2 linked regions of the Homo sapiens genome follow. The protein of the gene in region 1 interacts with the protein of each later gene in a biochemical or structural test. Each region holds a gene or a part of one and is shown in the gene's direction. Other genes may lie near its edges. The genes, in order: DCP1B and NSMAF.

Region 1 (12,705 bases):
AGGAACCCTTGGAGTCTTCAAGCCTTCCCTAAGACGGCCTCAGTTTGTTCTTCTAACCCTACTACCCTCTACAAATATTTGAAACTCCTGCCAAACAGAATACTCATTTTGCTTCCTGAGAGTGCTTTCATGACTTTTCTCATACTGTTCCCACCCCTTCTTCACCCATCAAAATATGATCCAGCTTTCAGGGCCTGTTTCAGATGTTCTTTTTCCATCACCTTATTTTTGGCCGGCCTAACTAGGTGTGCATGCACCCTGCTAGCTGCCAGTGCCTTATGTTTGGAAAGAGCATTCCATCGCCTTCTTACATTGTGTTGTCTCTGCACTCACACACAGATATTTCAGAAAATGTGGAGACCCTGAGTAAAGTGGTTCTGAGACAGAAGAAAGGGGGTGAAATGGAAAGGTAGCGAGAGAGAAGGAAAACAGAATGTTCCTTCAGAGTTCTTGTTGGGAAGTGAGTCTCCGTTACTTAAAGTGTTCAAGAAGAGATTGAACAGTTACATATTGGTGATGTGATAAAAGAATTTGGCTTGTGTTGGATAAGTATTAAACTAAAAGACTTCTGAGATGGTTTTCAGTGCTAGACTTACTTTTATTGAAGTTTTCTTTTTAAAATTATTTTCAATGAAAAATTAAAATTGTATATATTTATGTATGGTATACAACATGATATTTTGATATGCATGTATATTATAGGGTGCCTAAATCAAGCTAATTAACACATGTATTACCTCACATATTTATCATTTTTGTGTGGCAAAAATAATTAAAATCTACTCTTTTAGCAACTTTCAGTATACAATATATTAGTACTAACTGTAGTCATCATGATGTACAATAAATCTCCTGAACTTATTCCTCCTGTCTAATTGAAAGTTTGTATCCTTTGACCAACATCTCCAAAATCCTCCTACCCCCAGCCTCCGGCAACTACCAGCCTACTGTGCTTCAGTGGGTTCAGCTTCTCTGGATTTCATGTAGGAGTGAAATCATGCAGTACTTGCCTTTCTGTGCCTGGTTTATTTCACCTAATGTAATGTCCTCCAGGTTCATCCATGTTGTTGCAAATGACAGAATTTCCTTCTTTTTTGAGGCTGAATAGTATTCCATTGTGTTTATACACCACATTTTCTTTATCCATTCATTCATTGATGAACACTTAGGTTTATTCCATATATTGGCTATTGTAATGTTGTGGTGAACACAGGAATGCAGCTATCTCTTCAACATACTGATTTCATTTTCCCTGGATATATACCCAGAAATGGGATTCTTCGATCATGTGGTAGTTCTATTTCTAATTTTTTGAGGAGCCAACATAAATTTTTTTTTTTTTTTTTGAGACGGAGTCTTGCTCTGTCACCCAAGCTGGAGTGCAGTGGAGCAATCTTGGCTCATGGCAAGCTCTACCTCCTGGGTTCACGCCATTCTCCTACCTCAGCCTCCCAAGTAGCTGGGACTACAGGCGCCCTCCACCATGCCCGGATAATTTTTTTGTATTTTTAGTAGAGACGGGGTTTCACCGTGTTAGCCAGGATGGTCTCGATCTGCTGACCTCGTGATCCGCCCGCCTCAGCCTCACAAAGTGCTGGGATTACAGGCGTGAGCCACTGCACCTGGCCCAACATGCTATTTTCCATAATAGCTATGCTAACTAATATTCCCACCAACAGTATACAAGGATTTCCTTTTCTGTACATCCTTGCCACCACTTATGTTTTGCCTTTTTGATGGTAGACATTCTACCAGGTTTGAGGTGATATTTCACTGTGGTTTTAATTTGCATTTCCCTGATGATTAGCGATGTCGAGCATTTTTCACATACCTATTGGCCACATGTATGTCTTCTTTTGAAAAATGTCCACTCAGGCCCTTTGTCTATATTTTGATCAGAACATTTGTTTTCTTTTCTTACTGTTGAGTTGTTTGAGTTCCTTATCTACTTTGGACATGAATCTCTTATCGTATGTATGTTGTGCAGGTATCTTCCTCCACTCCATAGGTCATCTCTTCACTCTGCTGTTTCCTTTGCTATGCAACAGCCTTGGGTTGGATGTAATCCTGTGTGTCTCTTGCTTTTGTTGCCTGTCCTTAGGGTCACATCGAAAAAGCCATTGCCCAGAGCAACGTTAGGGAGCTTTTCCCCTGTTTCCTTCCAGGAGGTTTATAGAAAAAGTCATTGCCCAGAGCGACGTTGGGGAGCTTTCCCCCTGTTTCCTTCCAGGAGGTTTATAGAAAAAGTCATTGCCCAGAGCAACGTTGGGGAGCTTTCCCCCTGTTTCCTTCCAGGAGGTTTATAGAAAAAGTCATTGCCCAGAGCGACGTTGGGGAGCTTTTCCCCTGTTTCCTTCCAGGAGGTTTATAGAAAAAGTCATTGCCCAGAGCGACGTTGGGGAGCTTTTCCCCTGTTTCCTTCCAGGAGGTTTATAGAAAAAGTCATTGCCCAAAGCGACGTTGGGGAGCTTTTCCCCTGTTTCCTTCCAGGAGGTTTATAGAAAAAGCCATTGCCCAGAGCGACGTTGGGGAGCTTTTCCCCTGTTTCCTTCCGGGAGGTTTATAGAAAAAGTCATTGCCCAGAGCGACGTTGGGGAGCTTTTCCCCTGTCTCCTTCCGGGAGGTTTATGGAAAAAGTCATTGCCCAGAGCGACGTTGGGGAGCTTTTCCCCTGTCTCCTTCCAGGAGGTTTATAGAAAAAGTCATTGCCCAGAGCGACGTTAGGGAGCTTTTCCCCTGTCTTCTTCCAGGAGGTTTATAGAAAAAGCCATTGCGCAGAGCGACGTTAGGGAGCTTTTCCCCTGTCTTCTTCCAGGAGGTTTATAGAAAAAGCCATTGCCCAGAGCGACGTTAGGGAGCTTTTCCCCTGTTTCCTTCCAGGAGGTTTATAGAAAAAGCCATTGCCCAGAGCGACGTTAGGGAGCTTTTCCCCTGTCTTCTTCCAGGAGGTTTATAGAAGAAGCCATTGCCCAGAGCGACGTTAGGGAGCTTTTCCCCTGTCTTCTTCCAGTAGGTTTATAGAAAAAGTCATTACCCAGAGCAACGTTGGGGAGCTTTTCCCCTGTTTCCTTCCAGGAGGTTTATAGAAAAAGTCATTGCCCAGAGCAACGTTAGGGAGCTTTTCCCCTGTTTCCTTCCAGGAGGTTTATAGAAAAAGTCATTGCCCAGAGCGACGTTAGGGAGCTTTTCCCCTGTTTCCTTCCAGGAGGTTCATAGAAAAAGCCATTGCCCAGAGCGACGTTGGGGAGCTTTTCCCCTGTTTCCTTCCAGGAGGTTTATAGAAAAAGTCTGCCCAGAGCGACGTTGGGGAGCTTTTCCCCTGTTTCCTTCCAGGAGGTTTATAGTCTCAGGCCTTACGCTTAAGTCTCTCTAGAATTCTTAAATTTGTGAACATCCCAAGAAGTGGAAGTAGGAAAAATGTTGAGCTATCAGTATATATGATATGGGTAAAGTGAAGTCTGTCTAGTTTACAGGAGGTTAATAAAATAATTTGAAAACTTATTTTGGCTGAAATTTTGTGCATTCTCTTTTGAGAAATAACTTTCTGTGAATCTGCTTTAAAGTAGAAAAGATGTTAATTTGCATTTCATCTCTTTTTATCTCCGCCCTATTCAATTTCTAGTTGAGATGCAAGTGAACAGTAAAATAACCAAATTTTAGTAAGAACAAGAGGCAGGACCAGAAATGATCTACAGGCTGCATAGTTAAGCTTGGAGTATTCAGAAGTGGACTATTTGTGTTTTGTGGTTTAAGACAAGAATTATTGGCTCTTTTCTGGATATAGCTGTGAGTTATTTATGAAATTATAGAAATTTTTTTGTTGAATGATAGAATTCAAAAGAATATAAAAAGAAAAATCACCAATAATCCTATAAACTGAAGATAGAAACTTTTTATACTTTTATTGTATTTTGTTTCAAACATCTCTCTTGGCATAAATACATATGTTTATGTATGTATGTGTTTGTGTGTGATTAAAACTGGATTATATGACATACTTTTTGAGGTTTTATTGTATTTTAACCTCAGCATCCAACAGAGGAAGTTTTTGAAGTTTTAAAGAAATGCCTCAGGTTCTCTGTGAAGAATCCATTATATGCTTTTTCAAAAACTGTTTTTCCCCCCAGGATTTTAAAGATATTTAGGTCGGGAAAAGCATACAAAATTAAACAACTGGAAAATGAGCTACAAACTACTGAGGTGGATGATTAATTCTGAGCACTCTGATAAGAGGGAGCAATTGTTACATAAAAGCAAGGTTTTGTAGGTAGGCAGTTGTAGTGACACAGAAAACAGCTTCTGGAGATAACATTTTAACTAGGAAAAGCTATCAGGCTTATTCATATCAACAGACAAAGCATCCTGTTAGCCCATATGGATATGGGCATAGGGAAGCTGGGAAAAATCTGCCTTTCTTTGCCGGAAATTCAGTGTTTCTGAACATAGAAAAAGAAGAAATACAGAAAGCGTCATTCAAAGAAAGGAAGCATTCACGTTCTTTTAAATAGCAAGGCTTTTCATGCCAAAATTGTGTAAGGGATTAAATGTTAGCCTGTATTCTTGTCTTGTCTTGGTTATCCATGACTTGGGAAAGCCATGCCAGTTGGTCCATGCCGCCATACCCTCATTCACCTAAGAAGAATTGGAAGTAACACTTTATGACTTATAAGGTGATTTTGCATCCCACGTAATACTTGTGCTAAATATACAAATTATTGATAGAATGCCTGGAGGAAGAGAATCTTTTGTATGGTTAACCTCACATACAGTGCATACAGTGGTAATAGATGCCACACCCCCAGATCGTTGGATTAGAGAATACACATTGATAACTGTAAAACACATTGGGAATGCTGGGTTCCTGAGGGACAAGATTGTGTTTATATTTCATTTCATGTCAGGTGTGGAATATTTTGGGGCCTGAGGCCTTGGCTGTACAGTGGAAACAAATGATGCTTCAGAGAGTCTGTAGTACAGAAAGCAGCATTTTATATTGTTTTATTTAGTGTTTTAGCAAACTAGACACCAGTATCATTGCCATGCTCTTTTTGTTATGAATCCTACTGTGTTAGCAATTGCATGGTTGGTTAGATTAATGTATAATAATGAGTCAGTGTTGGAAATGATGAGATTTGTCTCTTGTCTCTTTCTCTACAAAATTCTAATTTGTAGTAAGTAGCTCAGAACGCTCAGATTTGAATTACTCTGTTTATGCAAGAAGTCATTTATTAAATAAAGATGATGTTAGTAATTTTTAAATCAGTGGTTTGAGTCAGCTTTTTGGTTTGTAGACCAAAAAAGATTTAGTTACTTTGATGAAATGTACTCAACTACTCTCCAATTTTAAGTCAACTGCTTAAATTGTCCAGACATGTTATTTAAGGAATGGTTTCTATATTTGTTTATCATTGAAAGACATTAGACTATATATATTTAAACGTATAGTCAATATATTAAGCACAGAACCTTTCAATTATACAGGTGTCTTAAGAACCCCTGGTCCTGGAGGCTGGTGTTGTTAGTAATATTTAGAGCACTGAATTGTCCAACTAAGAAAAATTAAATTTTAACTTGATTTATACTCAAACATAGCTCTTAGAGAAATTTAAGGGATTTTCCTTTGTGCATGAAAATCTATCAAAAACACAGCCGTCTACCAATTAGATAAGAAGTAAAAAGGTAGTCTTTTAAAAAGACTAAAGCTTTTCTAAGCCAAAAATGAGGGGATTTTCTTTTCTATTTCAGTGTAAAACCTGTTCTGAGCCAAAAAAGATAACCAGTTCCTCTGCCATCTATGACAATCCAAATCTCATCAAACCAATTCCAGTGAAACCCAGTGAAAACCAGCAACAGCGTATACCTCAGCCCAACCAGGTACGGAGTTCTCTGCTTGTCATATTCAGTGTGTCTCTAGAATTCTTAAAGAACTTTGACCCAGAATATAGTCAGGGGAGGGCCTGGTGTTGTTGAAGAATGCTTTCAGGTAAACCCAAGAAAGCGGGATTTCAGAATACAGATTTTTTCATTATTAATAACTTACTCTTCCTAGAAGAGGGTTAAAGTTTTTACTTTTGGCATATACCACATTCTGTGCTAATCTCTTGTGAACTTGAACTCCTTAAAAGATAATGTATTTTTTAAAAAACAACAAGCCAGCACAGTGGCTCAAGCCTGTAATCCCAGCACTTTGAGAGGCTGAGGCGAGAGGATCATTTGAGGCCAGAAGTTTGAGAGCAGCCTGGGCAACACAGTGAGACTCCATCTCTACAGGAAAATTAGCCAGGCATGATGGCGTGCACCTGTAGTGCTAGCTGCTCTGGAGGCTGAGGCGGGAGGATCCCTTGAGCTTAGGAGTTTGAGGTTACGGTGAGCTATGGAATGCGCCACTGCACTCCAGCCTGGGCAAGAAAGCAAGACCATGTCTCAGAAAACAAAAACAAACAAACAAGCACCCTAGAAAACTAATAACATTGTCAGAGATGACAGAAACATTACCCATTGGGTCCATATTCTTCTGGGGTGGGTGGCTTCCCAAGGCCACCTGGGAGAACCACCAAGGACACAGAGTTGATTTGAGCACTTCTGAGCACCTCCTCTGTGCCAGATGCAGAGCTAGCACTGTAGACTGGGGTAGCTGCCGCCGAGAGCTCAGAGTCCAAAGGAATGGTATAAAACTCCTCTTCAGATATGATGACTTGTCACTGTCTTTGCAATCTAAATTAGAAATATTACAGCAGCTTTTGTGTTAGTGTATATATATATATATATACACTTCAGAATAGTACAGCAATGACAAAAATTGTCAATCTGTAGGTCCCATTAATGATTGTAAATATAATATTGCTGTGTCATTTTATCATGACTATGACTAATTAAAAAGATTTTCTTAAAGGAATTAGTTTATATCAATTTTGAAAATGAACATGGAGCCAAAAGACATAAAGACTAGTAATGAAAATCTTATATTGAATTTTTAAAGAAAAGAAGTCTTCTAATTTTTTAGCTTTCTTTTTATTGCTTGTTTTATGGAAAGTTTTTATTATATTTTAATAGCGAGACCTGAATATGTTGACTTTAAAATGAAGCTTGTGGTTTTTTTTCTTTCCTCTTTTATTTTTTTTTTTGAGACAGATTTCATTCCTGTTACCCGGGCTGGAGTGCAGTGGCACCATCTCAGCTCACTGCAACTTGTGTCTCCTGGGCTCAAGCAATCCTCCCACCTCAGCCTCCCAAGTAGCTGGGACTACAGGCGTGTGCTGCCACATCTGGCAATTTCTGTATTTTTTGTAGAGATGGGGTTTTGCCATGTTGCCCAGGCTGGTCTTGAACTCCTTAGCTCAAGCAGTCTGCCTGCCTTGGCCTCCCAAAGTGCAGGAATTACAGGCATGAGCCACTGTGCCTAGCCTCATGTTTTCTCAGTGCAACAATGCAGAAAGCAACAGAAGTAAAGAGCAAGAAGGAAGTAGCTTTGTAACTGGCTGGGCCAAGGTAGATTTTATGTATCCAAGGACTTTTTAAATCCTACCAGTATATATTTGAAAGGATCAAGTTAGATTTAAAGTCTTCCGTTTCTTTCCAGCCCTTGATTTCCATAATTCTGTGAAAAACTACTAGAAATTCTGAAATGCTTATATTCCTTTGTATTCTCATATTACTCTGCAGGCTTAGATGGGCTTCCTATTGAACAGATTGTTTATTTTTTTAGTGCATATAATTTCCTACCAAGGTGGTTCCCAATCTGTGAAACCCCAGGCCCTTGAAGATCTTATACCTGTTTTATCGGTCAACAGATATTAAAATATAATAACTGTTTTGGGGGTGCAAGGGGAGCATGCTGTGAAAATTTTTGACATTAAAAAGGGGATCTCATTTTTCAAGTTTATTATTATTATTTTTCATTCTCTCTAATCAATCCTTTGTAAATAGAATAAGTCATCAGATAAGTTATGTTTCATAGCACTTCCTCATATAACCAAATTGTTTGTAGACTCATGTCAGATATCTTTATTTTTTCCAGACCTTAGACCCTGAACCCCAACACTTATCCTTGACAGCTCTGTTTGGGAAGCAGGACAAAGCTACATGTCAGGAAACTGTGGAGCCTCCGCAGACTCTCCACCAGCAGCAGCAGCAGCAGCAGCAGCAGCAAGAGAAGCTTCCAATTAGGCAGGGGGTTGTACGCTCCCTGTCCTATGAGGAACCCAGAAGACACTCACCCCCCATTGAGAAGCAGCTCTGTCCAGCCATTCAGAAACTCATGGTCAGGAGCGCAGACCTCCACCCATTGTCAGAGCTGCCTGAAAACCGGCCTTGTGAAAATGGCAGTACCCATTCTGCGGGAGAATTTTTTACAGGACCTGTCCAGCCAGGGTCTCCTCACAACATTGGAACTTCTCGTGGTGTACAAAATGCTTCCAGAACTCAGAACCTGTTCGAGAAACTTCAGAGTACCCCAGGGGCAGCAAACAAGTGTGACCCTAGTACACCAGCACCTGCCAGCTCAGCTGCCCTGAACCGCAGCAGAGCTCCCACTTCTGTCACCCCTGTGGCTCCAGGAAAGGGTCTGGCTCAGCCACCACAGGCCTATTTCAATGGCTCCCTTCCACCTCAGACAGTAGGACATCAGGCTCATGGAAGAGAACAGTCCACACTCCCAAGACAAACACTCCCCATCTCTGGTAGTCAGACTGGCAGCTCTGGAGTGATCTCCCCTCAAGAGTTACTGAAGAAGCTTCAGATTGTACAGCAGGAGCAGCAGCTGCATGCCTCTAACCGGCCAGCCTTGGCCGCTAAGTTTCCTGTGCTCGCTCAGAGCTCTGGAACAGGGAAACCCTTGGAATCCTGGATCAACAAGACACCCAACACAGAACAGCAGACTCCTCTTTTCCAGGTAAATATGTACCAGGGGCAAAATAAAACAGCCTGGGCAGCATAGCAAGATCCTGTCCCTAAAAAAAAAAAAAAAGTAGCCAGGCTTGGTGTCACACGCCTATAGCACCAGCTACTGAGGAGGCTGAGGTGGGAGGATCCCTTGAGCTCAAGAGGCGGAGGTTACAGTGAACCATGATCGTGCCACTGCACTCCAGCCTGGGTGACAGAGCGAGACCCTGTCTGTTAAGAAAAAAAAAGACAGACAAAGAAAAAGGTATTACTATAATGCAGTGAAATGTAGAGTCCACTTCCATGCTCTAGGGACCAATGTGTCACGTACATTTCTGTTTGGAGCAGGGTGCACCTCCGTGCATCTTGATTGCCTGAACTTTCTACCTGGAAGGAGAATCTTCACTTTGGTTAACAATCTGAGAACTTCCCCCAACCTTTTTGAGAGCATTACTTGTAGAGTTAAATCTTCGTTATATTAGGAGGTCTGAAGACCAACACAGACATGGGAGAAAACCGTAATTTTTGACTGTAGGAACTTAGTATGGTCTGCCTTGAAATCAATCTGGAATGCCAAGCAACTGACCTCCTCTTGTTTTTCAGTCCACAGTAAATTATTCACTTATTTAGTAAATATTTTTGAGCACTTACTACATGTCAGGCATTGTCTACATGTGGGTACATAATGATGAAGAAAACAGACTCCTTACCCACAGCCCATGCTGTAGGTTCTTGAAATAAACAAAAAACAGCCTATTTCCTCCTGAAAGGTGCAGCCAGTTTTTATCTTTCTCTGTATCGTCAGTATAGCCTACTGTAGATCAGGAGAGGTATGCATGCCACCCACCTCCACCCCCCACACAAACTGCCAGAGAGGGAAAATATGACAGTTTTTAGAAAGATTCTCTCCTTTAGAGAAGATGCTTTTCCATGTCCATCACTGACTTGGGACAGTGAGGAAACCACAAGCTATTGATCATCTGCCTGTGGGTAACATCTGGAGATCTGACATTGAATTGTTTTCCCTTTGGATTGGAACACATTCATTGAAAGTACATTGGGTTTAAAAATTGGAAAGTTCTCCCTGTGTATCACATATATCATCACTGGCCCTTTGTCATGTTTTGTTATGTACCTTTTTTTGTTTTTTGAGACAGAGTTTCACTCTTGTCGCCCAGGCTGGAGTACAATGGTGCGATCTCGGCTCACTGCAACCTCCACCTCCCGGGTTCAGGCGATTCTGCTGCCTCAGCCTCCTGAGTAGCAGGGATTACAGGCACCTGCCACCACACCTGGCTAATTTTTTGTATTTTTTTAGTAGAGACGAGGTGTCACGATGTTGGCCTGGCTGGTCTCGAACTTCTGACCTCAGGTGATCCACCCACCTCGGGCTCTCAGAGTGCTGGGATTACAGTCGTGAGCCACTGCACCTGGCCTGTTATGTAACTTATAACAGTTTCTCAAAAATCTTGAACTTTTGGCTGGGCATGGTGACTCGTGCCTGTAATCCCAGCACTTTGGAGGTTAAGATAGGAGAATCGCTTGAACCTAGGAGTTTCAGACCAGCCTGGGCAACATAGACCCTGTCTCTACAAGAATTTTTTGTTTTTAATTAGCCGGGTATGGTGGCATGCCACTGTGGTCCCAGCTACTTGGGAGGCTGAAGTGGGAAGATTGCTTGAGCCCAAGAAGTTGAGGCTGCAGTCAGCCATGTTTGCACCACTGCACTCCAGCCTGGGCAGTAGAGTGAGACCTTGTCTCAAAACAAAAAATTCAGTTTTTTGAAAACAAAGACCTTAGGCATGTGCCAAAAGTCTTTGTGAGCCCCTGAGTCAAAGTGTTCTCATTTATTATTTATTAACATCCCAAATCTGAGTACCGACTGCTATAGAAACAATATTTATAACTCCCACTCCCCCTCATTTCAGTGTTATTGTCCCTTTTTTAAAAATGTCTGCTTTTTTCCTCTTTGATGATTTAGAATTAGAAGCATGCGATGAATATAGTCTGACTTAAATTTCTGATGTACAACTCCCTTGACTTTTCAGTACTCACAAATATCAAGAGCCGAGTGAGAAAGGCAAGCATTTCAGCAGCCCACGCTGTGCTCAGAATGCTTGACTCCACCTCCGGGAGCATCACTGCTCAGCACCGCTCCTCGAAATGTCATGTAGGGACAAGTTAAAAGAAACAGCCTGCCTTCCTCTAGGCCAACTTTTGCTCAAAGAGACGCTAAGGGATTGATTATAAAATTACAGCAACTTCTAGCTTGCTGGCCTCCTTGCCTCCCTCTTAGGAGTTCTTTCGGGGAGTTCGGAGGCTGATAAATAACATTCTTTTTCTTCCCTGAGTTAGAAGCAAATGATAGCTGTAGGAGTCAGTCAGATAAGGATCAAAATGTCACTTGCATAACTGAAAGGGCTGTTAGAAAACTTGGTTTCAGGTCTGTTTGCCAAGGGAGTTAGACTCAGCAGACAGGCTCTGGCAGGGCTGAGCAACAGGCCGCCCGGGTCAGCCCAAACACATCAGCTGCGGAAGCTGAAGATGAGGGCTCTCTGCAGGCAGGCAGATCCTGTCAGGGAAGGACCCAGAAGGGGTGGACCCACACATCACTCTCCCTCCCCACGAGAAGTGAGTGAGGCCGCAGGAGGGGCGGGGAGTTGCTCTCACAGCGCCTCCTGTGCTCCGGGGTCAGGAGGGGAAATGGGGAGGCCCCTAACAAGGGTGGCAGCTCACATAGGTTGTGAGACCTTTAGGTCAGGGTCATGGACAACCAGGTCTAAGGAAAAGGTCAGTAGTCCTAAATGCACTTGCCAAATACTGGTAGCCTGAAAAATAAGCTGTCACCCAGAGGCCAAGCTGCATATGCAGTGGAAAGAATAGTCCCCACAGCAGACGATACCAGAGCTGCTCAGTGATGCTGAAGGAAGGTGCATGGAGCAGTGGAGCAAGAATCAGTTTCCCATAAACTTTTCTCAGCTAGGAAAGCTGTGGACAGGGAATGCTTAGACCACCCGTATCTGCCGCTGCAAGCTATCATGCCGTGAGCTGCTCCTGAACCCCGCTCTCTGTGTGTATTTGCTGTGAGCAGGTCATCTCACCTCAGCGCATCCCTGCTACAGCAGCTCCGTCTCTGCTTATGTCCCCCATGGTGTTCGCACAACCCACCTCCGTCCCGCCAAAGGAAAGGGAGAGCGGCCTCTTGCCTGTGGGAGGCCAGGAGCCACCTGCTGCTGCCACCAGCCTCCTCCTGCCCATACAGAGCCCGGAGCCCTCCGTGATCACCAGCAGCCCACTCACCAAGCTCCAGCTCCAGGAGGCACTGCTGTACCTCATTCAGGTAAGCAAGCACGTCATCTCCCTTCGCACCTGACCACGCCTGTTGGCCTCCTGGCTGCAACTATGAGATAAAGACTCAGCCAAGGCCTGCTTAGCTTCCGTGAGAATAACAGGTGTGTGTAACAACTCATCCTGACCCCAGCGGCTTCTGTGCTCAGTTAGCTAGGTGTTATTTATAATACCAAGTGTGGCTTGGGTGTCTCAGCTCTTCAAGGATTTTGTAATTTGAAGGACTGTCTAAGGCCTCCAAGCTGTCACCTGTCAGAAGAGAAGGAAGCATATGCTGGGGATTAAGCAGTCCCTGAGAGGACCCTGGGTGCTGGAGGCCCAGACAGAAAACTCACCATTGGGAGGTAGAGGTGGGAGCAGTCCTGGGCAAGGGGCCATCTGTTGAGTGGGGAAGAGGCCACTGAGCGAGTGGAAAACAGGGAGGGAAGCAAATAATGGCCATGGCTGCTACAGGTATGTTTTACAAGTCATTTTGAA
Region 2 (12,705 bases), on another chromosome or scaffold:
ATTCTTTTTTCTCCTTTGGTTTTGTTTTAGTTAGGACACTTTTTATTGACCTGTTTTCAGCCTTACTGGACCTTTCCTCCACTGCATCCAGTCTGTTGTTAAGATTGTTTAGTTAGTTCTTTGTGATATCAACATTTTTATTCCTATATTTCCGTTTGGTTCTTTTTCATAGTTTCTATTTCTCTGCTGAAACTCTGTCTTTTCACATGTGTTGTCCATCTTTTGTTCTTGTTGACCCACTGCACCCAGGCTGGAGTGCAGTGGCATAATCATGGCTGACTGAAGCCCCATCCTCCCGGGCTCAAGTGATCCTCAGCGTCCTGAGTAGCTGGGACCACAGGCACATGCCACCATGCCTGGCTAATTTTTTATTTTTTGTAGAGATGGTATCTCAGTATGTTACCCAGCTGGTCTCAAACTCTTGGGCTTAAGTGATCCTCTTGCTTTGGCCTCTCAAAGTGCTGGGATTACAGGTGTGAGCCAACATGCCTAGACTGTTCTTGATCCTTTATCATATTTACTATAGTTATCTTAAAGTCTTCCTCTGATTGATCCAATGTCTGACACACCTTCTATAGAGTCTTTTCTCTCTTGAGCATGAGTCATATTTTCTTGCTTCTTTGTTATGCATTATAATTTTATTGTATTGTAATTTTTTTATTGAGCAGTTTGTTAAAAAGGAAGTGTTGAGACCGAACTAAATAATATTTACCTCCAGAAGTGGTCAAGCCACCTCTTATTCTGTCAGGCTACTTGTACAGGGAGGCTCTGTCAATCAAATCTGTCACTGAGCTGCATTAAGACTTTGTTGCACCTGTGGTTAAATTTAAGCCAACACTGCCTACAACTCTATTGAGGGAGTGATAAAGACTTTCTCTTCCACAGGACTTGGGATCTCAGCACTTGAAGGATTCTAGAGATATCTTTGTGCTTTATAACTGAGCCATCGGGTTTCTGAACTGTGGGAGATTTCCCTTGTTTTGCACCTCAGTCGACAGCATTTTTGGATCTCTGGGGAGCTTTCTTTGCTCTCCAGTCTCAACTCTGGCTTTCCATTTCCCTGAAGATCTCTCTTCATTCTGCAGCCCTTACTCACTTCTATCATAGGTTGCTCCTCCTCCTGCCACTCACCTGTTGATCTCTTCTTTCCTTTTTGCAATCATGTTCATTTAGGTTGCTTTACATGCTCAACATTCCAGTCGGTTTTAAAAAGCTATGAAGATTGTTCAGTATATCCAGCTCATTTTGGTTGTTAGGGTGAAAGCTTCAACAGTCTCTTACAGCTTTCCCATCCTAACTTGAGGTGGAGATCTTCCTCTGTATCTTTTTGTCCTGTCACTTATAAAGAGATTTATTTTTAACCCAGTTATTTCAGTAATTGCCTTAAAATGTTGATGATTTGGTTGTTTTCCCTTATTTTTTCTTAAATCAGTTAAAGCAGAATGAGAAGGGACTTTGTTGATTAAATATTTTAGGAGTGAGTAGTGAAGAGATCATTTTTCAGAGGTTTTCTGCAGTAAATTCACAGAGGGATATACTCAAAAATATACAAAGGAATATACAGTTACTCAAATGTATTATAATTCAAGTAATTATAATTATGTAGTCAGAGCCTTATAAAGTGTAGTGTGAAATAAATGCCACTTGTGTCAAAATGGTTTATAGGATGATAAAAATAATGACAGAAAAATAGGAAATAATTTAAATGTAAGAATAGTTTCAAGGCCTATTTATTTTGGGGGGAATGAGTTTAGCTAAGGGTTATTTGGTATTATTTACTTGTCTGTCATGGCTTCTGTGGTAGATAATCTCACCTATTTCTTTGAAAAATGAGTTTTTATCATGCCATTTCTAAAGAGTCAGTTTTATCTAAGCAATCAATTTATATTACCATTTTTCTTATATTAAATGTAGTGTTTAGACAAATGTCATAGAAAGTCACACTGTAGCTCCCTTAGATAAACCTAGAAAGTAGATCAATTTCTGATTTTTCTTACTTTTGCTGAAAAACCTATTTTCAGGTTCCAAAACATTTCTGAAAAGCTGCACATGGAATGCAAAGCAGAAATGGTGACGCCTCTGGTGACTAATCCTGGACACGTGTGCATCACGGACACAAACCTGTATTTTCAGCCCCTCAACGGCTACCCGGTGTGTAGACCACAGGGTCAGGTGGGGAGCTGCCCATGTTTAAGCTGTTTCCAGACCATGGCCTCACAATGCCAGGGACCTCACTTTTTGATGAGGATCAAGTCATGTCCCTGCCCACCCCCTTCACAGGCAGCATCTGTGTATTTTACAAACACCGTGTGTAATCGTGATGTGTAGTCTCTGAAGTTTGAGTTCTTCTGATCTGTTTTCAGTCATGTCAGGGGCACTTGCTCTCAGTGTGGTGAAAAGAAACCCTGCTCCTCCCTATTTTAGTAAAGGGTCGCTAGAGATTTAGACCTTTCTTCTAGGAGGCATTTCCTAGAGACCAGTGAAATATACTATGATTAATAAGAAATAGATTTTGAAATATATTTGCTTATATATACACAGATGTTGGTATTTCTTGCTTCTTCTTAATGATGAACAACCTCAGTAGATCTGAATTTTTCCTGAAGGAGCACTATGAGCAGGTCCTCCCAGCTAGTGCAGAGGTGTGTGTGGAGATCCTGCCGTCTGGCAGTTATGGGCTCCTGCTAGGATGTTGGAAACAATCTTCTCTTTCACAATGACACAGACTTACAAGGCCAGAAAATAAATATAAACTTAGATATCCATGCTGAAACTTGTAAAGATTTGTTGCTTATCTAGATCTGGCCACTTTTTAGCATGATCCATTAAAAGAACAGAAATCCTAACACACCCTGGTAGTGCTGTGGGGCCATTTGGCAGGGCCCAAGAATTCTGCCAGAGAAAGTTCCACCTTGGAAATTCTCCAGGCTGGTCATTACAGGGCACTAAAACATCTCAAACTCTCCTGAGTGAAAGATTATGCTATAGTGATTGTGTCCACTAGGTGGTGGGGCTCACTTTCCTAGTTCTCCAGTAGACACTGCATGCTGCTAGCACAGCATTCTCAGGGAGTGTAAAAAATTGGCTTGGCTGCTACTATTGCTTGGGTCAGAAATTTTGAGAAAAAATGTCTGTGTACCCTAGCTTCACAATCCATGGTATGGGCCTTTACCCCTTCCCAATACTGGCCAGGATCCTTGACCAGTCATTTCCAAGACCTGACTCTGGGACTCCGGGGCAGTTTCCACTGTTGGACAGACTGACCTCTGCACACCCATCTTCCCTCCTACTTGGGAGGAGGACCACGGAAGCATAGCCATTAGCCAATCTCTGCCTTTTTAAACCTCCTTTCTCTCTTACTAGTGTTTTAAAATTATAGAAAAGCAAGACAATTTTCTTCTTCATTAACAAAGAAAAAATTCAGAGGCCTTGCTTTATACTTTAGTAATCTGTGAGCCTTAATACACTGTAATTTTTAATGAGATAAAAGACAGGATTCTTTAAAAAAGATGTGTGTCAGTACTAAGCAAACTATTTGTCTAAAAAAAGATAGCAAGATTCCTGAGAGGTTATTTATGCCAGTTCTTTATATTTCTTATCACCCCACAATCTAACCTGAAAGATATCACCCCACCCCAAACTAACCTGAAATATCCCTGAAAGATAGATGATTGCATTATCATTTGCAGGGTGCCACATGGCGGGGAGGAAGACTTGCCCAAGGTCATAAAGCTAGTGAAAGATGGCAGAGCAGAATGGGAAACCAGATATCACCTTGTTCCAAGATTTCCTTTTCCAATGGTTTATTAGGAAAGCAAGATTTGGTGATTTTTTTTTCCCCTTTCTGATACTATAGAACAACTTCTAATTGTGTCAGAACAATAATGTTTGAGATTGTCTTTCTACTTTTAAAGAAACCTGTGGTCCAGATAACACTCCAAGATGTCCGCCGCATCTACAAAAGGAGGCACGGCCTCATGCCTCTGGTGAGTCCTTGGGAGGCTGTGCTGGGGCATGATTGTCACACTTTCAGTTTAGCCAGCAGTTTATTGACGGTAAACACTTATGGGATGTCTGAAAGTACAAGTACACTGTCCTGTAAGAAAATAGACTCTGATTTTGCTGTTCTTTCTTTTGGAGAAGGTAGAAATTCATAAAGGAATAACTCTTTCATGTAGAGAAGAGGTTCTATTATGAAGTATTTTTGGCTCCAAGAGCAAGAGGGCTAGAGTGCCCTTGAGTTTCTCATTCGTGCATTCTCAGTTTCTGGGCTCAGGCTAGAATGATCTGTGTAAAACCAACCCTGTGCTGTACTTGCCTCCACCATTCATAGCAGCTAGGTCTCAAAGCAAAATCTGGAAGATGTTACAAAATTACTTCTTTAGTGGAACTAGTATATTCACAGTTAACTTACATTAATTCAACCTTTGGGCTGAATGACAAAATAACCATGTAAAATCATATAGGCAGTTCCTTCCACCATTCCCTGAATAAGTGTATTTCTATACTTAGGTCCTATTTCCGACACATGTCTTACTTTAGTAACCAATCCCTACAGAAGGTATGATTCCAAGTGTTTTAATTCGACACCAATAGAAATTCATTTTTTCTCCTTTGAAGATTAACCAGTAACTTGGTGACATTACAAAAGCATTGTGGAATTTTAATTCTTATTTTTGTGCTTTTAATTTGTGAAATTCTACTGTTTTGCTTCCTATTTTACTTAAAAGGCCATTCCTCCATTTCCAGCACTAATAGCAGATCAGGGAAACAGATACTATTAAAAATCTCCTCTTTTGGGTATAGAGCTGCAGTCAGAAAAAGAGAAGAAATTAACATTGATTAAGTGCTTTCTATGTAACAGGCAATTTATATATAATGTTTCATTTATTCGCCATTATAAGCCTTGTGAAGTAGATAGTATTGTATTTTACAGGTGAAGAAATTGAGACTCCGGGGGTTAACTTCCTAAGCTCCCAGCTAGTACATGGTGAAAGCCTGTATTTGAACCAAGGGTAGCTCTGGGCTTTCATCCTGGCTTTGTCTGTTCCTTTGCTAGCTCAGCCTTACTAACACTATGGTCACAAAGCTCATAGGTTTTTATAAGATAATAATAATGTATTAATTGAATGGGTTATTCAATTATCAATTTGTTAGGTGTGCATAATTTTTATTTATTAGCTGGGCATGGTGCGCCTGTAGCCTTAGCTACTCGAGAGGCTGAGGTGGGAGGATCAATTGAGCCTGGGAGTTTGAGGCTGCAGTGAGCGGTGATCACACCATTGCACTCTAGCCTGGGCAACAGAGCAGGACCTGGTCTCAAAATATATATATGTTATTTAACTTATGAAAGAAAGCTAGACATTTATGTTTGAAGAAGAGATGTGAAGACATGGATCAGCTATTTTTGAATTTCAAAATAACAAGTTCACAAAAGCTATTATTAATGAAAATATTCAACACTCAAGGTGATTTACAAAGTTTAGCTGAGATACTATCTTGTTCTCAAAACATTTATAAATACAACATATATATATATACGCAAACGTATATGTGTATATATATCACTGAGTTAAATTTATAGATTGAAAATAGGAATATAAGTTATAAAAATAAACACAAATGTTTAACTGAATGTTTTTGTAATTATATACTTATATTGGGATTGCAAGATGAATACAATGCTATTTATTTTATTATTTTCTTTTTGAATTTATAGGGCTTGGAAGTATTTTGCACAGAAGATGATCTGTGTTCCGACATCTACCTAAAGTTCTATGAACCTCAAGATAGAGATGATCTCTATTTTTACATTGCCACATACCTAGGTTTGGCGCTCACCCTTCATTGTTTCTTTCTTTTTTTTTTTTTTTTGGAGGCTGAGTCTCGCTCTGTCACCCAGGCTGGAGTGCAGTGGCGTGATCTCGGCTCACTGCAACCTCCGCCTCCTGGGTTCAAGTGATTCTTGTGCCTCAGCCTCCCGAGTAGCTGGGACTACAGGTGCCCGCTACCACGCCAGGCTAATTTTTTTTGTATTTTTAGTAGAGACAGGGTTTCTTTTCATATGAAGGTAGTTCAACTCCTAAGGATCTGGGATAGGAAATAAGAGAAGAAAAATGCTATTTGTAGAATCGCCTCTTTGTGGGTCTAATTTCTTCTCATCAGTAACTATAATTGCCAAAATAATATTTTTAAAATTCTGGGAAATATAAATTCACTTTGATAATAGTTCATTCTGAATGTATGTTTTAAAAACTCTAGATAAATATATTTAAATGCTCTTATATTTTAACGTCCTCCAAATTGAATGGATTTTGAAGAATCCACTCAAATATTTTTATGTTCAGTCAGGTCTTATATTAGTTTATGAGAACCAAGACTCAGTTTTGTACTGCGAGGCAGTGAGTTATTCATATGTTTGTGATCATTGATTGTGGTCAGAACCACAAAGCTGAAAGACTGCAAAAGGAACATGTGAACCTTCTATGCTCAATATACTGACTTTGGAGTGGAATTTGCTTTTAATTAATGATATTTCCTCAGTTTTCCATGGAAAATGTGAATTTTCCCACCTTTGCCAGAGAAAATACTTATATTATGATGTTCAAGCCCAAAGTTTTTTTATTACATTGCAAGGCTAAATTAAATTATTCTAGTTTACAAAGTTGCTAGATAACTGGAAAGGAATTATCTTTAAAAATGGATTTTGGGGCTAGGCATGGTGGCTCATGACTGTAATCCCAGCACTTTCGGAGGCCGAGGAGGGAGAATCTCTTGAGCCCAGGAGTTCGAGACCAGCCTGGGCAACATGGCTTGACCTCATCTCTACAAAAACAATTAAAAATTAGCTGGGACTGGTGGCGTGTGCCTGTAGTCCCAGCTACTCGAGAGGCTGAAGTGGGAGGATCGCTTGAGCCTGGGAGGTCAAGGCTGCAGTGGGCAGTGATCACACCACTGCAATTCAGCCTGGGTGACAGAGTGAGACCCTGTCTCAAAAAAACAAACAAACAAAAAAGGATATTGGGATTTTATTAATATCATCTTAATGTGTTTGTTATTTTAGTGTACCACAAAACTATTTGTGAAATTTGTAGTAAAGTACATCTTCCCTTAGAAATGAAATTTTACTTCAAGGAGGAATACTTGGCTTTCAGTAGGGAACATATTTTATTTTAAAGTAGGTTTATATATATATATTATATATATCTATGTAGTTATATATAGTTTATATATAGTTATATATAGCTAGTATTTTATTCATACATTAAGCTATTGAAGGTAACTTTATGTATAAGTATAGCTTTGTTACAAGTTTACTTTAATTTCCTGTCTCATGATCTAGGTTTTTAAATTTTATTTTTTTTAACTATAACAAGATTACAATAAAAAGATCAACTTTCATGGTGAGTCCTAAAATCTCAAGCCAAAAACTTTGCCATGATCTAAAATATCCATTTTCTAAGAAACTGTCAGTTCTCACTGAGTTTATTCCTAAGATTGTTCATACTTTTTCTGAGGGGTTTCAAAAGTAGAAAACGAGGGGGAAGTGTGTTTTGATTTTTGAAGCCCTTTCCTAGTAGCTGATTAAAGAAGAAACTTGGTAAAAGTAGATGAGAATAAATATTAAGAGTTAAGATGCTTAATGCATCAGGAAAGGTTGAAAGCAGAATTTTCTGAACAAAATGGAAAATCCACTTGTAGGACAGTTAATTCATTTTACACTCTGAAAGGGAAGTTCTCATTGCTGCATTTATCTAAGATCTCATTTTTCCTGAGGTATTTCAGGGGGCAGGTCTGGTTCTTTTAGTTTGAGAATTGGTCCTCCTGCCAAACGCCTGTTTTCTTCTTTAACAATTTCTTTTCTTTTCCTTAGTCTTCACATGCATAAATAATATGTAGTCATTGACAAATTAGCAGTAGTACATCTCTTCCAAGCCTAAAAGAAAACTAAAAGATTGCTTTAATTTCATAAATAATAAAAGAAATAAGCTTTCCCAGATGGCCATGGGTTTTTAAATGCATGGAGACAGCACATTTGGAGGGATTCTTTGTTACTGTATAAATATTACCTATTAACATGTAATATTTATATATTTGCGCTACACTTTTGTATTTGTTTAGGTTATGTCATATTGTGGAGGGTAGTGTAATAGCTCAGTGTATTTAATAATTTCCCCTCCTTGATCTTGGAACTGTTTATACATAGCTGAACAAATACTTTATGAAAACAAGTCAGCAGCCTACTTTTCTTTTTCTTACAATGCATTTTTCAAGAATGCACAGGGATGGTCTACACGTTAAGCCCCTAGCTTTTGCATACTAAGTTTGCGAAGTTAAGTGGCAGACCTCGTGGGTCCTCTTCCCCCAGAGCACCATGTGGCGGAGCACACTGCTGAGAGCTACATGCTGCAGTGGCAGCGTGGACACCTTTCCAACTATCAGTACCTCCTTCACCTCAACAACCTGGCCGACCGCAGCTGCAACGACCTCTCCCAGTACCCTGTGTTTCCATGGATAATACATGATTATTCCAGCTCAGAACTAGGTAACTGCCACACGTGGAATTCTGACCAAGTTGAGTGGGGAGTAGTCATCTGTATTGTTTTTAAAGGACAGAATAAATTCTATTTTATAATTGTGATGTGACATGTGAACAAATTACAACTCATTTCAGTTGTATTGCTAAGGACTGCCAATTTCCATTCCAGGATACTATATAAGTGTTACGTAAGTGTTTCATGTATGTTTTTTCCACCATACTTCTTGAAGGACACACACAGAAAAAATGGGCATGATTTTAACCCAGGGTTATCATTATTACCTATAAGTACCACGTTTTGAAATATTTGCTTCTCACTTTGAAAATTTCACTCACCTTATATTATTTTTAAAAATCACATTAAAAACTGTGATTATTTGTTATAGAACACTTGGAAAGTCCTGAAATAATCAAAGAAGAAAATTAAAATCATCCATAATTATATTACAGAGATAACCACTTTACCTTTGGGGTATATCTACTCTTCTCTTGCTACCACAGATTATTTTAAGAAAAATGTAATTGTATTGTAACTTTATTTTGTAATATTTAAAAATTATATATTGTGAACAGTTAGTTCCTCTTGACACATTATCTTGAACCTTTGTCCTTGAAAGAGATAATAGATTTTCTAGAAATATGATAAAGTATTTCTCTGAAAATATTTAGCTCACTAGTTCTCAAATAGGCTAATATTGAAGAATAATAATATTCACTAGAATTCGAATGTAGAAAGTAAATCTTGGTAGAAGAATAATGGCTTTTAAAATTTTGTTGTTGTTGTTGTTTTACTTGGAATATATATATGTTCCTTAATCAGAAACTTTTTTAAAAAAATTAATGTTCAGGGCATTGTCAAATTAGAGATATTGCTCTTAAGTGGTTGTGTCTAACTTAAAACTCAAAATTGCTAACCTTTTCTTTACATCTACATAAATAACTAACAAAAATAACTCTCATGGATTGCTCTCAATTTTTAAAAAAACTTTTGTGGAAGTAAATGTGTATATTTGAATTAATTCAGGAGGTTAATGGTACTAAGTATAAGCTGAAGTTATTTATTGATTTATGTTTATAGATTTGTCAAATCCAGGAACCTTCCGGGATCTCAGTAAGCCAGTAGGGGCCCTAAATAAGGAACGGCTGGAGAGACTACTGGTATGTGGACTTAGAGATTCTTGGTTTCTAAGCAACACGAGAAGCCATGGCCTGTGTTTTTATGGAAGGAAATTCGTTTCTCCAAGGCTTAGGGGAATTATACCAGTGACTCTACGTAGAGTTTTTTCTTACTTTTCTCCTGACCGTGAATTAGCTGCTCACCATTTGCATTTCTTGTCTGCAGTTTAGGAAGGAGGAGGGCAACCTGTTTACAGGTTCACTGAATTATTTTCATGAAGGCATTCTGTGGTAAATCGCATAAGAGACACATAAAATCAGTTCTATTTAATCTAGTGCCAACATTTTGTTACCATTAAGCCAGGGAAACCAAAATACTTGTCTCAGGAATGCTGTTTAGCCACAGATTTTCTTTCCCTCTTATCTTCTCCTTTTCTTATCTAACAGAGAAATTAAGGAATATGGTATATCTATGTTATGATTTCTTTTAGGCTTTTTCTACTTGTCAGTTATTATTTCATAGCCAACACTTAGCTCTATTTTTTTTTTTTTTCTGTATTCTAGACACGCTACCAGGAAATGCCTGAACCAAAGTTCATGTATGGGAGTCACTACTCTTCCCCGGGTTATGTACTTTTTTATCTTGTTAGGATTGGTAAGATTCTTTATCATTACCCCCAATTAAATTTTATTTCACTGTATTCTTCAATGATTCTGTGACCTGACTTACCTCTGACTTTTTCCCCTCTAGCACCAGAGTATATGCTGTGCCTGCAGAATGGAAGATTTGATAATGCAGATAGAATGTTCAACAGGTTTGATACAAATGCCTTGCTTATCATTTTTAACACTTTCTGATTGTATATATACAACATACTTGTTTCAAAGCACTGGATATAATAAAAAAGTAAAGAAATGTAAAAAATCACTAATTGTTCTATCTATTCCTCTCAGGCTTTTTCTAGACATGTATATGTGTGTGTAAATGTGAGAACATATTTTATGTACAGCTTTTTGTCCTACCTTTTGTAGCCTAATATTAAATCTTAAAGTTTTTCCCATATTATTAGATATTCTTCAAAACAATGATTCTTTTTTAAAATTATTGTATCACATTCTAACATATGCCATATTTTATGTCAACTTCTTTTCTCCATTGTTGGGCATTTAGATTGTTTCCCACACTTTATTATTCTTGATAATTTTGCTGTGAATTGAATACAGCTCCCTGTGTGTATTTAGATGGCTTTACTTTTTAAATTATAAAAGTAATATTTTCTTGCCAAAAAAATCAGCAACTATAAAAAAGGAAATAAGTTTACTTGGTATCCCACCACACTGAGATAATAATTGTTGTAAATTTTTTGGTATGTCCTTTTCATTTTTTTTGAACTCTACACATATCTAATAATAATTCCTTTTGCAATGAGCCATTCAGATAGTGGTGCTAATCTTTTTTTTTTTTTTTTTTTTTTTTTGAGACAGAGTCTTGCTCTGTCGCCCAGGCTGGAGTACAGTGAGCAGAATCTCAGCTCACTGCAACCTCCGCCTCGGGTTCAAGCGATTCTCCTGCTTCAGTCTCCTGAGTAGCTGGGACTACAGGCGCATGCCACCACGCCCAGCTAATTTTTGTATTTTTAGTAGAGATGAGGTTTCACCATGTTGGCCAGGATGGTCTTGATCTCCTGACTTCGTGATCCACCCGCCTTGGCCTCCCAAAGTACTGAGATTACAGGTGTGAGCCACCGCGCCCTACCAGTGGTGCTAATCTTTCAGTGTGGAGGCACCCTGCTCCATTTGGCCCTTGGATGAGGCAATGTGTATATGGTAGCTAATGGTGTGGACTCGGACTCTATGCCCACTCCCGCCATGTGACCCTGGAGAAGTTACATAAACTCTCTGGGCCCCAGTGTTCCCTTTTGTTAAAGTGGGACACTCAGAGAGATGGTTAGAACTATGTGGAAATGACAAACAGAAGTTAATACAGGTAAAGTGTAGAACAGCCCCCAAGTGCATAGGAAATGCTGCTATTGCTATTTCCTTAGCTGAAAATAGGTGAATTTTTTTTTCATATGTAGTATTGCAGAAACTTGGAAAAACTGTCTGGATGGTGCAACGGATTTTAAAGAGGTAAGCAGTTAATAAAGCTGATGAGTAACTGGACTTGGGGTTTCTAACTGCTTTAAAACATGTTTGTTGTTCTTTTTTATTTTTCCCCGAAACTTTCAGTTAATTCCAGAATTCTATGGTGATGATGTGAGCTTTCTAGTCAATAGCCTGAAGTTGGATTTGGGAAAGAGACAAGGAGGACAGATGGTTGACGACGTGGAGCTTCCCCCTTGGGCTTCCAGTGAGTCCCCCCTTGGAGGTGTTGTATTATAGACATGCTTTACCAAGTAGTGCAATTTCAGTAATTATTTTATTGCTTAGATTTTTAAAAATCACAATATAATTCTCTAAATAAGGATATATGAGCCCTATTCCATATCAGAAGTATTCTATGAGTCTGTGATGTAAAAACATTAATATATATTTGAGAGACCTTAATGTGAAAATGATTCTTGCCACTTTTTTCCCCAAAAAACTTACATTTCATATGATAGAAAAAGAAAACTGCATTAAGAAATATGGACCTCTTGCCTGTCCTAGAAGCTTTATATACATATAGATAGACAAGAGAAATGGGAGGAAAAAAATGAAGACTCCATGATTTTTCGATTGAGTCTAATCTAATAGGTCCCGAGGACTTTCTCCAGAAGAGCAAAGATGCATTGGAAAGCAATTATGTGTCTGAACACCTTCACGAGTGGATTGATCTAATATTTGGCTACAAACAAAAAGGGAGTGATGCAGTTGGGGCCCATAATGGTATGTAATATTCATTGAAATTTTATTTAGCATTGGGTGAATATTTAGCATTATTCATTTTCATTGGAAAATGAAAGCAAACAATACCAACAAAAAAATGAGGCCAAAGCAATTAGTCTTATTTCTTCAGTGGAAGCATGTTCTGTCAGACTCCAGCGTCCACTGGCTGCATGACCCTGGAT

The links.
Region 2: the proteins of DCP1B (region 1) and NSMAF form a complex in vitro, tested with the Homo sapiens proteins (one study listed by BioGRID and IntAct).

Annotation. Positions count from the first base shown.
Region 1 is NC_000012.12:1,948,601-1,961,305, reverse strand, and holds part of DCP1B (mRNA-decapping enzyme 1B), read left to right. Parts: intron 1-5,745; coding exon 5,746-5,874; intron 5,875-8,017; coding exon 8,018-8,890; intron 8,891-11,971; coding exon 11,972-12,220; intron 12,221-12,705. UniProt on the Homo sapiens protein: May play a role in the degradation of mRNAs, both in normal mRNA turnover and in nonsense-mediated mRNA decay. May remove the 7-methyl guanine cap structure from mRNA molecules, yielding a 5'-phosphorylated mRNA fragment and 7m-GDP.
Region 2 is NC_000008.11:58,599,050-58,611,754, reverse strand, and holds part of NSMAF (protein FAN), read left to right. Parts: intron 1-2,021; coding exon 2,022-2,151; coding exon of another isoform or gene 2,152-2,172; intron 2,173-3,914; coding exon 3,915-3,986; intron 3,987-5,719; coding exon 5,720-5,828; intron 5,829-8,344; coding exon of another isoform or gene 8,345-8,368; coding exon 8,369-8,545; intron 8,546-9,617; coding exon 9,618-9,697; intron 9,698-10,219; coding exon 10,220-10,310; intron 10,311-10,406; coding exon 10,407-10,470; intron 10,471-11,733; coding exon 11,734-11,785; intron 11,786-11,884; coding exon 11,885-12,005; coding exon of another isoform or gene 12,006-12,023; intron 12,024-12,258; exon of another isoform or gene 12,259-12,391; coding exon 12,392-12,523; intron 12,524-12,705. UniProt on the Homo sapiens protein: Couples the p55 TNF-receptor (TNF-R55 / TNFR1) to neutral sphingomyelinase (N-SMASE). Specifically binds to the N-smase activation domain of TNF-R55. May regulate ceramide production by N-SMASE.